2 separate regions of the Homo sapiens genome follow, and region 2 is linked to region 1. Evidence: fine-mapped expression QTL. Tissue or cell type: whole blood. Region 1 holds a variant in brackets; the other region holds the start of a gene. All regions are shown on one strand. Distances are from middle to middle.

The links. PIP is the estimated chance that this variant, and not a neighbour inherited with it, causes the effect.
Region 2: it holds the start of ABCC3, and the variant in region 1 is fine-mapped to the expression of ABCC3 in whole blood (INTERVAL, PIP above 0.99).

What each region holds. Positions count from the first base shown.
Region 1 is chr17:50,671,546-50,679,761 of GRCh38, reverse strand. ABCC3 (ATP binding cassette subfamily C member 3) reads right to left here. Exons shown (of 31, transcript NM_003786.4): 18 at 6,624-6,791; 19 at 6,104-6,293; 20 at 4,286-4,400; 21 at 3,987-4,131; 22 at 3,672-3,879; 23 at 3,174-3,484; 24 at 1,819-2,018; 25 at 1,543-1,669. Among named protein-coding and RNA genes, the nearest start is that of ANKRD40, 32 kb to the left of the region's middle. RefSeq lists a silencer at 2,140-2,434. The variant G/A (reference allele first, on the strand shown) is at 4,523.
Region 2 is chr17:50,631,390-50,639,389 of GRCh38, reverse strand. ABCC3 (ATP binding cassette subfamily C member 3) reads right to left here and starts at 4,509. Exons shown (of 31, transcript NM_003786.4): 1 at 4,409-4,509. The coding sequence starts at 4,453. LOC101927253 (a long non-coding RNA gene) reads left to right here and starts at 7,450. Exons shown (of 2, transcript XR_243718.2): 1 at 7,450-7,650. RefSeq lists an enhancer at 1-759 and a silencer at 4,490-4,539.

The DNA of each region.
Region 1 (8,216 bases):
CCCCTCCCCACCGTAATGGCTTTGGGAGGAGTTCAGACTCCTGGATCATGTGCCCATCCATGGGATCCTAGCCCATGGATGACCCAGGTGGGCCTGGATCAAGCCCACAGGCATGCCAGCTGGGGCTGTAATCACGAATGACTCCCTTGGGCAGTGACAGTGCAGACTTAACCAAGGACCACCTCGCCTTGGTTTCTGTTTCTCCAACTTTAATATGTATAAGACTTCCCAGAGAATCTTGTTAAAATGCAACGCCGGATTCTGTAGTCTGAGGTGGGACTTGGAACCTGAGATTCTTCATTTCTAACAAGCTCCCAGAGGATGGTGATGCAACTGGCCCATGGGCCACACTTTGCGTACCAAGGAGTCTTGATCAAAGTGCAGAGTCCTGAGCCCCATCCTAGGTCTACTGAATCAAAATGTACATTTTAACAAGTAGATTCATGTGCACACTGACCTTTGTGAAAATTGACCTTTCTGGATTGTTTTTTGTTTGCCAACGCGTTCAAGGTTTGAGCCACCTGAGGTATTAACAATGTGATCTGCTTTACAAAAATTCCGTTTGCAGTTAGGTGACTCTTTGACAGTACAAGCTGGCATCAGGATGACCTGCCTGACCTGCAGACCAGGCTTCAGTCACCTCGTCTGTGTACGTTCTCTGCAAGCATGTGAACGTGAGCGAGCGGTATGCCAGCCCTACACTGTCCTGACCTGTCACATGAGCCTACAACTTGCCCAGAGACAAGAGAAATTCTGTTTGTCCTTTGGGGCTAAGCTCCAAGATCATTTCTACAACACCCCAAAGCAAGAAAACTCCTCTGGACTTTTTTTTTTTCTCTCTTGAGATGGAGTCTCGCTCTGTCACCCAGGCTGGAGTGCAGTGGCGTGATCTTGGCTCACTGCAACCTCTGCCTCCCAGGTTCAAGCTATTCTCCTGCCTCAGCCTCCTGAGTAGCTGGGATTACAGATGCCCGCCACCACGGCTGGCTAATTTTTGTATTTAAGTAGAGATAGGGTTTCACCATGTTGGCCAGGCTGTTCTGGAGCTCCTGGCCTCAGGTGATCCGCCCACCTCCGCCTCCCAAAGTGCTGGGATTAGGTGTGAGCCACTGCACCCAGTCCCTCTTCTGGGCTTTTAAAACATTTTGTTTCTCCAGCCACAAAGACCTGCTCAGCCTGCAGCACAATCTCCTGCTGATGGGGGTCTCTCCAGTTGAACTGTGAGGTGTCAGGCAAGGTCGACGGCTGAGCAGGAGAGAGATGTGGGGTTTGAGGACAGAGATTATTCAACAGAATTCTTTCTGAATGTGAGAACATGGGCTTCTTGGGGAAGGAAAGTAGGAACATCCAGCCATGGTGTGTGGTTATAAACTTGTCAACTCAATGATTTTTTTCTTTTTTTTTTTTTCTCACAGTCCTTGAGAACAGACCCTGTGGCTGGTGCCCATACTGAGCAGGGAGGGGCACTCGGGAGATGCCTGGAACACCTGTGTGGTTTCTGTCCCAGTGGTGGCCCTGCCCTGGGGTCCAGGCCCTTCATACCTGCAAGGAGTAGGACACAGAAAGGCCCACCAGCCCCGGGTTCAGGCTGCTCCTCCCGATGACGGCAAATAGTGCAGCAAAGAGCACCACGCAGTTCCCCACGAACTCCACTCCGATGCTCAGCCACCTATGGGGGATCAGATGAGGAGGAAATGGGGCAGGGGCAGGGCAGGGCCAGTTTTCTGCTTAGGGGAAAGGAGGGACAAGGACCCTGAACACCAGAGAGCCTGCTGGGAATTCCTGGAGGAGCAGGGAGCGAGGGAGGCGGCTTCTGACCGGTTGGAGATGATGTAGGGGTAGCAGCTTCTCTGGTTGGCATCCACCTTAGTATCACTGATGATCTCAAAATCCCGGCTGCGGTTGTAGGCCCGGATGACACTGGCACCAGTCACTGTCTCCGAAAAGTGGGAGTAGATAGGTGAGCGGCTGACTGATTCCAGCCGCTTCAGTTGCCGTGATGTGGCTGCATAGAAGCGCTGATGGAGGGAGAAGGAGTTTGGGGTCAGGGCCATGGAACCCCCAACTCAGTCCTGCCTGTCTCTGAACTCATCCATTTTCAGATGAGTCCTCCCAGCCAGCCTCACTCCCACCACGAGACATCGCTGCCTTCCCCCACCTCCAAGGACCCAAGACTTGGGGCCTTGATGTGTCATTCACTCCCTCCCTCTGATCATCTCTGCTTCAACCCCACAACAACACGGCTCTGCCTCCAGTTTCCATCCTCTCCTCTGTGGCCTCAGATATCCAGGCTATACAGGATGTCTATCTGATTCTCCCCTAGCCCAGCACAGAGCACAGCCTAGATCATGGTCGCTATACCCAGGTGTTGAGCATCTATCCCCGGGAACTGACTAATTCATTACAGAACAGGAGTTCAGTGTCTGCAAAGGCCTTTTACAGTTAGCTGTATCTGAAGGTTATCAACTCATCTATGTTAAACGCATGCATACACGTATGTTTAGATATGTATAAAAGGAAGGAAAGGATAATGTGTCCCAAACTGTTGACAATGTTTTATCAAAAAACAGCCAACAGGAAGGCCGGGTATGGTGGTTCCCACCTGTAATCCCAGCACTTTGGGAGGCCGAGGTGGGCGGATCACTTGAGGTCAGGAGTTCAAGAGCAGCCTGGCCAACATAGTGAAACCCCATCTCTACTAAAACTACAAAAATTAGCTGGGCGTGGTGGCGCATGCCTGTAATCCCAGCTACCTGGGAGGCTGAAACAGAATTGCTTGAACCTGGGAGGCGGAGGTTACAGTGAGCTGAGATCGTGCAGCTGCACTCCAGCCTGAGCGACAGAGCGAGACTCGAGATTCCGTCCCCCCCCCCCCAAAAAAAAAAAGCCAACAGGAAAGTCCCAGTGCCAGCTACAATGTATAACTATTTCATTTTATTCTCTCACCAACTCCATGAGGAAGGTCTATGAGTCATTCTATTTTACAGGTGAGGCAAATGAGTTTCAAAGAGGTTAAGTAATGGCTCCCCTAACATAAATGTTAAGCAACGACTGCCCCTAACAAAACTCTGTAATGTTGGTGGCCTGAAGTGTCCCACCCCTGCTGCCCCCGCCCATGTGTTGCCCCGCCCCAATAACACCACGCCCACACTGGAATCACGCCCACCCCACACCTGCACTAAGGTGTAGAGCACAGCCAGGGGCAGGATGACCACAGTGAAGAGCGGCGTGCTGGCCATGATGACCACAAGAGTGGAGATGGCGTTGAAGAAGGAATTGAGCAGCATGAGGATGACAGGGGCCAGAACCTCATCAACGACATAGATGTCCTTGGAGAAGCAGTTCAGGATGCGGCCTGATGGTGTGGTGTCAAAGAAGGACTGTGGCGAGCGTATCTTGTTGTGCAGCAGTGCCTGGTGCAACACACGGGCAGCCTGGATGCCACCCGCTGCCATGGCCATGGCTGCCAGCATCACCAAGAACCCTGTTGGAGAAGGCAGAGGGCGCTGGCTCACCTGGACTAGTGAGCGGGCACAAAGGGGCAGAATCAGAGACACGGGTTGACCAGAGTGGGTTAGGGAGGCTTGGATGCAAGGGCACGGTTTGGGGGGCCTGGCAGCCCAGAGAAGAAGGGATATTGGAGCCCCTTCTGGACACCCCCACAAGCTCACCTTGCAGAATTCCTAAAGCAGCATAGACGCCCAGCCTCAGGGAAGTGTTGTTCTGTCTACTGTCTGCCATGGCATCATTTGTCCAGGCACTGAGCCACACATTGGCTCCAATGGCAGCCGCACTTTGACCCACATACAGGAGACAGATGGCCAGCGTGGTACAGAGCCCCACGGCCTTGGCATAATCCCAGAACACACTGAGCTCCACCTGTAGGGAGCAGCCATGGCAGTCAGGGACAGGGGACTCCATAAACCCTGGGGCTGCTGGGGCCTGCCTGTCCATCCCCTCCAGCCCCTCTTGCCCCACCGACTCACAGTGCCAATGGCTGCTTTCTCCTCCTGGGTCAGTGCCCCATCTGCCTTCGCCTCTGTCACCTGCACCTTCTCTGATGGACCCAGGTGCCTCCGGGGTACAGGCCGACCCTGTCCCTCCCCATCTGAGGACAGGGCACTCAGCTGTCTGTGGAGGCAGCTGGTCAGGCCCAGGGAGGGGGCCTCAAGCACCCCCCAGGACAGAGGCTGGGAGTGTCAGGGAGAAACCTGCACCCCATCTGGCAGGGCCTGGGGAGGCCTGATACAGCCTCCGGGAGGGCTGGGAGCTCTCAGGAACTCACCTCATAAACTGCTTCTGGACCACATAGGTGACTGGATCATTGTCTGTCAGATCCGTGTGGTTGCTGAGTGTGTCTTCAATCAGCAGTGCCTCCTTATCCTCTGCACCTTCCAACGCTGCAGTAGGGTGGGAGGAAGGAGATAGGGTTCAGCTAGTTCTCCCTGCAAGCCCCTGGTATCTCCCATTCCCCACTCTAATGAAAGGGGTTCAATGGACAAGCATGAAAATAAAATGAGGG[G/A]GATTGAAAGGGCAACAAGAAAGACTTGGGTTAAGCAACAAGAAAAACTCTCTTCACAAATTATGGAGAAACGGACTCAAATACAAGGGTTAGGAACTTGGGCTCTGGAGTTAGACTGGCTGAGCTTAAAACTCACGTCCTTGGTCGGGCATGGTGGCTCACGCCTGTAATCCCAGCACTTTGGGAGGCTGAGGCAGGCAGCTCACGAGGTCAGGAGATCGAGACCAGCCTGGCCAACATGGTGAAACCCCGTCTCTACTAAAAATACAAAAATTAGCCGGGCGTGGTGGCGGGCACCTATAATCCTGGCTACTCGGGAGGCTGAGGCAGGAGAATCGCTTGAACCCAGGAGGCAAAGGTTGCAGTGAGCCAAGATCGCACCGTTGCACTCCAGCCTGGGCAACAGAGTGAGAAACTGTCCCCAAAAAAAAAAAAAAAAAATCTGCATGACTGTAGGCTTAAAAGAAAATGTGTCCAGTGTGTGAGCGAGGGGCACAGCACTTGGTAAATGCTCAAGGCACGTTGGCTGTATGTATAGCCATAGGCAAGAAAGCCCAGGAAAAGGTCTGTGAGCCAATCCAGAATTGGGGGCTGGGGAGCTGGGTCTGGGCAACAAGGAGCCAGGGGCATGTTGTGAGCCCAGAGACGTCAACAAGCTCCATGAGGACTATAATTTTTTTGTTTGCTCACTGCTATAGCTTAGTGTCTGGAACAGTGCCTGTATATAGTGATTGTCCAATAAATTTTGGTTGATAAATAAGCGGCTTTGCTAAGCACTTGCATACTTGCCAAACTATTTATCCATGAAGCAGCCTTGCCACACAAGCTGGGCCTGGGCCCTCCTATGCTTTCAACAGATGGAAAACAGGCTCTGAGATCGGGCAAGGTGGCTCACACCTGTAATCCCAGCACTTTGGGAGGCCGAGGCAGGCAGATCACGAGGTCAAGAGATCGAGACCATCCTGGCCAACATGGTGAAACCATGTCTGTACTAAAAATACAAAAATTAGCCAGGCGTGGTGGCGCATGCCTGTAGTCCCAGCTACTCGGGAGCCTGAGGCAGGAGAATCACTTGAACCTGGGAGGCAGAGGTTGCAGTGAGCTGAGATTGTACCACTGCACTCCAGCCCGGCGACAGAGCCAGACTCTGCCTCAAAAGAAAAAAAAGAAAGAAAGAAAGAAAGAAAGAAAGAAAGAAAGAAAGAGAGAGAGAGAGAGAGAGAGAGAGAGAGAGAGAGAGAGAGAGAGAGAGAGAGAGAGAAAGAAAGAAAGAAAGAAAGAAAGAAAGAAAGAAAGAAAGAAAGAAAGAAAGAAAGAAAGAAAGAAAGAAAGAAAGAAAACAGGCTCTGAGACCGGGGCGGAGGATCTGAGTTCCCACAGTTAGGGTAGAGTAGGATGGAGGAGGCAGTGGGACCCGACTATGTCCAGTTTACTTTACCTCTGGTGACTGTCACACAGATGGCCCAAGTTTCCCAGAACCTGCCTGGCACAACACTAGGCCAGTCTAGACACACTCAGAGACCCCAGACAGGGGGAATGCTGGGAAGGCATGGGAATCAGAGGGCCCAGGATGGCAGATACCGGTCCAGCTGTCCTCCAGGTGCCCTTGGTCCTCATCGGGGGCATAGTTGCAGAGAAAGTTGGCAAAGGAGCCGTTGCGCTGCAGCAGGGCTGGGTACGGGCCCATCTCAGACACCTGTCCATCAGCTAGCACAATGATGAAGTCTGTCTGGGGCAGGAAGCTAATGCCGTGCGTCACCAGCACTCGCGTCTGGGGAGAAGGCAGCAGGCTCTCACCCCTACCACCCTCCAGCACACCCCTGGCACAGGCACGGAGCCACAGAGTGAGTGTGAAGTGTGCCCATGTGCCAGGGAGCTTGGACAGGCACATGGGTGACTCACCCTGTGCTCGCCACAGCCTGCTCAGAACCTCGCAGGTGGGGGAGTTGTCCCCACAGGTTTCTCCTGATGCCCAACCCACATGCCCACTTCTTGCGCCCCCCACACCTCCAAGTCTCATCCAAACCCCTCAGCCTCTCACCAGCTCTCTCTTCGGGCCTCAGATCTCACCTTAGCCCCCTTAGCCTCTGGCAGGCCTCACCTTGCCTGCCAGCACGCCTTCTGGCCCGATGACGTGGTCAAAGATGTGCTTGGCCACATGAGAGTCCACCGCGGACAGTGGGTCATCCAGCAAGAAAATATCGGCATCACTGTAAACAGCTCGAGCCAGACTGACCCGCTGCCGCTGGCCCCCAGACAGGTTAATGCCCTGGAGGGAGGCGGGGGGTGGGAAAAATGGGGTCAGACAGGCACAGGGAGACAACGGCCTGTCCACTGTTATTTGGGATGGCAGATTTTTTTTTTTTTTTCCTGAGATGGGGTCTCACTCACCCAGGCTGGAGTGCAGTGGTGCGATCTTGGCTCACTGCAACCTCTGCCTCTCGCGTTTGAGCAATTCTCATGCCTCAGCCTCCCGAGTAGCTAGGATTGATTGCAGGACCACCATGCCTGGCTACTGACTAAAATGTTTTATTTTTTATAGAGACAGAATCTCCATATGTTGCCCAGCCTGGTCTCCAACTCCTGAGCTCAAGCAATTGGCCCACGTCAGCCTCCCAAAGTAAAGTGCTGGGATTACAGGTGTGAGCCACTGTGCCTGACCAGAACAGCAGTCTTCTGAATCTATATTTCACATGGGGCCTAGTCTGTCCCTGCAATGCTGTGAGGGACAGAGGTAAAGGGTAAGTCCTCCTGGGGCAGGTGAGGCCATTCTGCTCCATTGGTCACCACCCTGCCCAGCTTGGTGTCCTGCCCAACCCATCTACGGATAAATGGGCACACAAATGTGTATATACCTATAATGAAATATCATTCAGCCTTACAAGGAGGGAAATTCTGACACATGCTACAACATGGATATGCCTTGAGGACATTATGCTAAGTGAAATAAGCCCGTCACGAAAAGACAAATGCTGGATGATTCCACTTACGTGAGGTACCTAGGTGATATGGTTGAAATATTTGTTCCTTCCAAAGTGCATGTTGAAACTTACCCCCCAGTGTGGCAGGATTGAGGGGTGGCATTTACCAGGTGATTAGGTCATGAAAACAGAGCCCTCATGAATGGTTGATCCATTTATGGATTAATAGGTTGATGCGTGAATGGGTTACTGGGGGAGTGGGACCGGTGGCTTTATAAGAAAGAAAGAGAAACCTGAGGTCGCGCGTGGTGGCTCATGCCTGTAATCCCAGCAATTTGGGAGGTCGAGGTGGGTGGATCATTTGAAGTCAGGAGTTCAAGACCAGCATGGCCAATATGGTGAAACCCATCTCTACTAAAAATACAAAAATTAGTCGGGCTGTAGTTGCGTGCGCCTGTAATCCCAGCTATTCGGGAGGCTGAGGAAGGAGAATCGTTTGAACCTGGGAGGCGGAGGTTGCAGTGAGCCAAGATCACGCCGCTGTACTCCAATCTACAGTCTGGGCAACAGAGTGAAGCCTTGTCTCAAAAAAAAAAAAAAAAAAAAAAAAAAAAAAGGAAGGAAGGAAGAGAGACCTGAGCTAGCATGCTCGGTCCCCTTGCCATGGGATGCCCTGTATGGCCTTGGGACTCTGCAGACTCCCCGCCAACAAGGAGGCCCTCTCCAGATGCAGCCCCTGGACCGTGGACTCTTCAGCCTCCGTAACTGTACAA
Region 2 (8,000 bases), 40 kb after region 1:
TTCCCCGTATCTCTCTGGCCCTCAGGGACCTAAGGCCCAGGTGAAGTGGGGGAACAGCAGGATTGAGGAGAAGCCAGCCTGAGGCCACAAGCAATGAAATGCCGTAGCCAGAAGCCAAGAGCTCAGAGGTCAAAGCCATCCAGCACTGGGTTTGCTTGCAGCAGCTGAGATGGAGGAAAGGAGCCCCGGGAGCTCTGGCCTTGCAGGGAGGACTGGGTTCCTGAGGGGAGGGTGAGCTATGGTGTCTGCTAAGCGGAGGAGTGTCTACCTCCCACTCAGCTTCCCCATGGATGTGCAGGACACTGTCTTCATTTGTGAGTCAAAATACATTGGCATAGGAGCCTTGCCCATTACTCATACATTTTTGTGGCTGCCTACTAAGAAGGCAGAGGAGACCCTGATACCCAGGAGCTCTAAGCTTTGAAGGGCCCTAATCATGCATAGCCTTCGCCCCCAAGCCCAAGGCTCATCCTTCCAAAATTGGGCAACTCCAGACCTGAAGCAGGCCCCAGAGCCCACCTCAGCCCTGCTGGAGCCCAGAGAAGGTGAGTCATTTGCCCAAAGTCACACAGCTGGTGAATAGCAGAATTGGGGCTAGCTAAAACAGAGCAGGAGACACAGGGAGCTGAGCCTCCAAGGGACCAGGGATCTGCCCCTCCCTAGGATGGGTAAACAGCTAAGGGAACAATGAGGTCACCTTTCCCATGTGGGCCTAACCAAGGGGAGACCCAGAGGCCTCTACCAAGAGCTGCTTCTAGGCAAATTCCGTATGTAGAGCAGGGAGAGAGCCAGGGAAGGAGGAGTCCAGAAATCTCAGAGGAGGAACTAATGAATCCCCACTGGCCGCATCTTCCCTCTACCCAGTCACAGAATCTCAGGACCCCACCTTCTTTCCTGGCTTGAATCCTCTCTCCAGCATCTCCGCCAAGCAGTCACTAACCATGTCCTTACATACCCCCCAGTGACAGGGAGCTCACTACTTCTCAGGCGGTCCTTGCCATCTTTGGATGGCTTTCATGGTCAGGATCTTCAGATTTCTAAGCTTCCTGGGGCTGTCAGATCAAGGCTAATTCTGCCAACAGGTGTTTATCTGGCGGGGGGTAAATACCTCCAGGCCCTTCCTCCACATACTCCCTTCACCACCCAGGTGCTCCCAACCTCTGTGGTTCAGAACAGAGAGGAATCCTGCAGGCAGAGGATCCCACCTCCTCCCTTGTTCTGAGGCACCTCTGGCCTCCTGAGTAGTGAGGTGGTTTAATTACACAGTTCACTCTTTTGGAATTTATTTCCACAAAAACTCCCAAGGCACATTCAGGGAAGTTGGTAACCTGCTTCAAAGTCGATATGGGTGAGAGAGAGAAGGATTCACACAAATCATTCACCTGGCAGGTGGTGTGTGAGTACACAGATGTGTGTACACATGTCCCAAGGGGCATGGTCCTCTCCAGTCTCCTACCCTCAGACTGAGCCAGGAACAGCTCCCAGCTCCCCAGCAAACAGCTGAAATGGGAGCCACTGGCCCGACAGCCCTACCAGCTCTTTCCCTGCAGGTCTTCCCACGTCTGACATTTTCTTCTAACCCCATTTTTCTTTCTCCTCCCTCTTCCGGGGAATGTCAGAACTTGCCACCCATAGAAAACTTCTTAGTTCTTAAAATCATTCCACATTCCCTGTCTCATTTGATCAGAAAAATCTTGTGAGGTGGGTAGGGGTTGGGTTATTTCCCATTCCACTGGTGGAGAAACTGAAGCTATAAGGATGAGCTACTGAGCATCTTGGTAGATTAAATGAGCGGCCCAGAGGGGCCTGAACACCCCACCCCCTCCTTGCATTTTCACTCCTAGTTCAGGTACTTCCGGGCTGCCCTGAACCACTTCCCACAAAGTGGGTCACCCACAGGCCCCTAAGGTAAAGGTTCAGGGGGAGTTGTGCCTTAATAATACACCATGCAAATGAGATGCAACACAGCACATCACAAATGAACAGCCCAGAACTCCAGGCCTTTTTTGTAATTAGGCTGTGGCAGAGGATCCAGCTTCCAGTGTAGACTCTCTCTCCTTTCAGCTGTACAAACCCTGTCATTCCCTCAGAGGATGAGCTGGGAGCCTCCTTTCTCTCTCCACGCTCCTTCCCCAGTCACCAGCCACACTGGGTGCAGCCTGGAACAGCTTTCAGGAGCCAGAAGAGAATGTGAAAGATGTTTAGAGATTGGGGTGGGAAGGGGGGTGGTCAGTTTGCCATTTAAGGTATCCAAGCAGAGATCTCACGAGGGCTTCATAATGTAGATGAGCTGACTCCCACTGAGCCTGCATCCTCAGAGGAGGTGTGTATAGCTCACGAGCATCAAGGAGAAGTGCGCGGGCCAGAGGGCCCAGAGGCTCAAAGGCTCACAGCCAGGCAATGGCAACCCTGTAACCACAGCCCCGGGGTCCGGTTTCCCAGCCCAGCACTCTGTCTTTGATTGTCCTGTGACCTTCACTCCCTTGGCCTCAGTTTCCCCAGCTCTACACTGAGGGGTTGGACTCGCTGCTTCAAACTCCCAAGCTCCCACTTTCTTGGATTCCACAATCCCATGTTAAGGTAGAGCCAGAGGATGTCTGAACATGGGACAAAAAGGGAGTCCTGAATTTCCCAACTCTGGGGTCCAGGAGACCTGTCTCTGTAGAGTCCTAAGCTCTCAGGGTTCAGGAGGCTACCCAGGAACAATGAGCCCTTGTGCCTGAAGCTTGGGCACAACTACCCTCTTGATTTTCTGTTTGGCATCCCAGGCACCACAAACCTGCCACGGTCATACCAGCCTGGCCCAAAGGGCAGTGAAAGGAAGTGTGCTCATGAGGCAAAGGCACAACCTCTGGACCCTGGTGGCAAGTGGCCTGTCCATGCTGAATAATACATGAAGTTCCTGTGGGACTGGGAAAGAAGGGCAGTGGCAGAGAAGTTGCACCATCTCGGATTAACCTTTGGGTCACCCACAGAAAAAGAGAGAATCCCAAATATGCCTTTTTACAGTTTTTTTTTTTACCTCCATTGCCCCAAGTTTCAAAAAATCCATATAACGCCTTCAGCCCATTCTAAACACAGCCCAAGAGCATAGCTCCAGACTTATACACCTGTGCACACACGTGCACAGCACGAACTCTTGGGTAACACCCCACGTGCCTGCGTGTGTGCGTACACACACAAAGGGCATATATGTACAAATACTCAAAATAGGAAAAGACTTAGAGATTGGGATTCACAAGCCCTGGACACCCCTTTAATGACCACAGAGAAGCACCTTTAATCTGAGCTCCCTCTGTAAAACGGAGACCACATGATCACTTGCCTCATAGAGGCAAGTAAGTTTTGCAAGTTGGTAAGAAAGCTCCTAGGCTGTATGCACTTAGCTCACCTGAACTGTGCTGGAGGCTGGAGTCAGCAGGCTGAAGAGCAGCCTGTCTTAGAAAGAGATTTGGAGTGAGAGTCACCAAAGGCTTGATTTTCTTTTCTTATTTATTTATTTTTTTAGAGACAGGGTCTCACTCTTTCGCCCAGGCCACAGTGCAGTGGTGCGATCATAGCTCACAGTAATCTAAAACTCCTGGGCTGAAGTGATCCTCCCACCTCTGCCTCCCAAAGGGTGGGATTACAGGCGTGAACCACTGCACCTGGCCTGTAGCCTGTTTTTCTATCCCAGCTCTGCCTTCATTGAACTGGGTAACTTTGGGCAAGTCCCTTCCTCTCTCTGGGCCTCCCTTTCTCCATCTGTGAGAAGGGAGTTGGACTACAGGAATCCTGACACCCTGCACCTGTCTCCAGACTGGGGTCTGCTTCTCCCTTCTGAGTCCGGAGTGGTGGGGATGGCCTGCTCTCAGACCTCAGTCTTACCTAGAGAAAAGAAGGTGGCAGGAAACCTTCCTAAGAAGGGTGGGACACTGCACAGCCGGCCTCCCAAAACACCTGGTTGAGCAGGTGCTCTGGATGCCCTGGGGGCAATCCATGCCCAGGTGGGCAACCGAGTCCTAACCTGAGGCAGATGCTGAGGGAAGACCCTCCATCAGGAACCCGCGGCTGATTGCGAAACGCCCCTTCCGCACCCGACGGAGGGGCTGGGATGGAGCCGACTCACCCAGCCACGCACTGTGCCTTTGCGCCCCAGCCGCGCACTCTTCCTCACTTTCCCGGGCTCCCCAGTGCTGCAGCCGGGAAGGGCAGAGCAGGGCAGGTCCCCGACACCGCGTGGGACCCGGCTCCGGGCGGCGCAGCCAACCTCCCTCCCGAGCCCATCGCCCCCTCCCGGGCGCCCAGGCCGTCTCAGGGGCTCCGTCCCGGGATACCTGCCGGCCCCGCGGGAAGGCAGGCGGCGGGGACCGGGCGAAGCCGGCCGACCCTGGCCCCCGCGCAGTGACCCCGGAGCCCCGCGCCTTACCCAGAACTTGGAGCCGAGCTCCCCGGAACCGCACAGGGCGTCCATGGGGCCGAGGCGCGGCTGCAAGGAAGGCGAGCGCGGTCGGACCCAGCGGCGGGCAGAGCGGGCGCCGGAGCCGCCTCCGCCCTCCGCACCCCGCGCTCCGCCCGGACCCGCCCTGCCGAGCCCTACCCCAGTGCCTCTGGGTCCGGTCTCCCTGCCCCCGTCCCGCGGGTTGCGACAGCGCCTCCCTGGGAGGGACTTTGGGGCAGAGGTGGGGGGGCCCTTGGCACGGCGACAGCCCCTGCGAGCGGCCCCTGGGCCAAGCCAGGGGGATGTCTCTCTAAATACCGAGGCTAACAGTCCAGGAGTCGAGTCTATTTCCAAGGGGGAACTGGGATACACAGGCGCTCCCACTCCCGAACAAGTCCGTGGGGCCGATGAGTCATTGAGTAGGGGACGTAGGGAGAGGGATTTAACAATCTTTCCTAGTAAAAAAGGAATCTTTGAGAAGGTCACGTTCCTCTCCGGAGGTCAGTTTCCTCATCTGTAAAATGGGAAGGGCTTCTGTGCTCAATCAGGAAGCTGACCTCTTCCCCATCAGGTTCCAGAGACCACTGGCAGGCGCCACACGGGGAGCACACGGGGTGTGCTCCGCGGGTGTGTACCCGTGAGGCGGGGGTGGGGGCCGCAGCATCGTCCAGCGGGGGCCTCTTATGTCCTCTTAAACTGCTGCCCTCTTAGGCTCTGTGGCTCCCTGACCTTGCCACATCACCTCGGCACGTCTCTGGGCCTCTACTTTCACATCCGTAAAATAGAGACAATCATAGAAGAGAATCTTCCTCCCAGGGTTCTCTGAGGATTGAATGGAAAGGGTAGGCAAAGCGTATTTCCTGGCACACTTAGTGGGCACCCAACATGTGTGAATTCCCTCTGCTTCAGCCTGATCAGGGTTGGGGGGGGAAGGACAGGTGAAGCCCCAGGAGGAGCCCCACGTGAGTGTCCTCGTCCTCGTCCTCCTCCTAAGGCTGAAACTCTACATTCCTGATCTGTAAAATGGGCTTGTCAGTGCTCTCCTTCTCCTGCTTGCCTCAGCTCTCCTTCTCCCGGTATCCCCTCAGATGCGGGGATCCCTCCATCTCTCAATCCCGCTGTTGCCCTGTCTTCCTTAACACAATCCCAGACGCCAACTCAGCACCGCTTGTTGGGGCTCAGAAGGAATTCTCCCTGGCAAATCTTTCCCTGGCCCTTCTCTTCCCTGCCTTTGCCCACAGGTCTGTCCAGTTTCACCCCGGTGACCCCTTTTCTGGCCCTTGTTCTCAAGAGAAGGTGTTTCCTTCCTTGGCTGCTCAGCGGCAGGTGTGGGTGGGAGCCAGTAAGAGTGCAGAAGGGGCAAGCCACCTCCTATCTCTCTGGGCAGCCAGGAGGTCACTAGAAGGGAAGTCTCCTTGGCTATAGGCTATCAGAACCAAGATCTGGCTGGGCATGGGATAGGGGTGGGAGTGGAGAAGATTCCCCTTTCCCAGGCAGTCAGACCAGGGACTTCTACCCCTCCACTGGGCAAGTTCTTTCAGCCCCTTCTTTGTCTGCCCTCTTCCTTTCCACTCATCCACACATACCCTCCCTCTCCTGTCCCCCTACCTTCATCTCTGGGCAAAATACTTTACAGAGCTTTACACCTTGTTACGGCGTGCCTTGGATTATATTTAGTTATGAAGAGTCTGTCTTCCCTGCTAATCTGAGAGGTCCCCAAGGGCAGGGACTAACTCAGTCCCCTCCAATCCCCCTCCATACCTTTTATACACTGTGTGATCTCAATAAGCTCCTTGATGCCTCTGGGACTTCATTTCTTGAGAAACGTGGACAGGGTGATATCTAAGCTCTCTTCCAGCCCTGGTGGGCCAGGCTTCTATGGCCTAGGCAGCTGGGAACCTTCCTCCACCCCTTCCATGACCCTGGTCATGGCTTCATCAGCACCCACTGCCCCTGTGTTTTGACCTTGTCTACCCACCGGCTTCCTCCAACTCTCCCTCCTCTCCCATTCCTTTTCTAGGGCTTGTGGGGTCATAGGCACCAGATTGCTCTGGGCTTGAGGAGACCTGGGGACTTTCCTTTAGGGCCCTTTGGGAGGTGAGCTCCCCAATCAGACCTCCTTTCTGAGATGGAGAGCCCAGAACTAGCCTGAGCTTCCGTCCGGGACTTTCCAGCCCCACAGTTGGCCAGGCAGTGCACTGGCTGGAGCTCTAGTTTTGGGCTAGGACCCTTGGGTTCTGGCTTCAGCATCGGAGCTGAAGCACCATCCCTTGCAGCCCCAGGCTTTTCTATCGCTATTGCTTTCCCAAGGCTATAGCACTGGGTTGGGCACTCTGAGGGCGTGGTGGGGGCCCTTAGCGATCCTCACCTTCCCCCATCTCTCTTGAGGTATTGGGGCTTTACCCCTCCAGGCCACTCAGGAAGTGTGTCCCCTTTCACAGAGCCCTTGAATAATAACCACAATATTTCTAGGATGTTATTGTTTTGGTTGTTCTCACCAGAGCAAGAAATCTGAGGCCCTGAGACACCCTACAGCTTGCTCAGCGCCACAGAGCTTATCCCAGCACACGCAGGAGGCGCCCCACGTCTGCCGAGGAGACTGTTTCTGCGCAGTCTCCTTGAGCGGGATGCACTTCCTGTATCTGTCTTCAAGGCTGCTTGGTGCACTCTCCTACCTACACCCTACCTCCCTTTCTGCAAGTGGCAAACTTCTTCAAGAGTTCGCTCAAGCCCCCCTCCCCGTCAAAGCCTTCCTTGGACCTCCCCAACCCAGTCCTGGGCTAGGAGGCTTCCCCCACTTGTAATCACTGATGTCTTGCTTACCTCCCCCAGAGGACTGTGGACACCTTGAGGGTAGGGACTGAAGTTTGTTTATCACTGTATCCTCAGCACCCAGGACAGTGCCTGGAGAAGTTGGTCCTCAGGAAGTGTTGTTGACTGATTAAGCAAACACCTCATTTCCTAAGAAGGAGTCATAGGTAACAAGGCCACTGTGGCATTAAGTACAGTCCCAGCAGTGGGCACTGCCCACTTTGCTTTTGAGTGTTCAGAACCAAGATGGTTCTTGCTGGAAGGGCTCCGGAGAAGCAGTAACGGCCTTGTGGGTTGGGCTGCAGCAGAGAAATGGACCAAACCTCCCCCAGCCTTCATGGCCCAAGCCCCATCCTCCCTCCCCAACTGACTGCTGCTCCAGGCAGGATGGATGGAGCATGTGCGGTGCCTCCCCCGCAGTGAGTGTCCCAGGGGAACCCGGCGTCAAGGATTTCCTGGCAAGGAGATGGAAAGATAAAATAATTGCAAGGTACAGCTCAGAGCAAGCATGACAGCAGAGAGAAGAAAGCAGAATGGGGGCAATGGGGAGACCCAGGCACAGGAAATGCTCCGAAGGGAGAGAGGCAGGTTGGAACTGACAAGACAGAGGGGCAGGGTGTGGAATAGCAAAGCTTCCCCTCCAAGCACTGCCTGATTCCTTTTAGCCCCTTGCGGCTCCTTGGAGGCTTGGAGCACCCCCAAACCAGGCTGCAGCTCCCACGCCCCAGCCTCCCCCTTGTCCTCTCCCCTGAAGTGGGGTCTGCTTCCT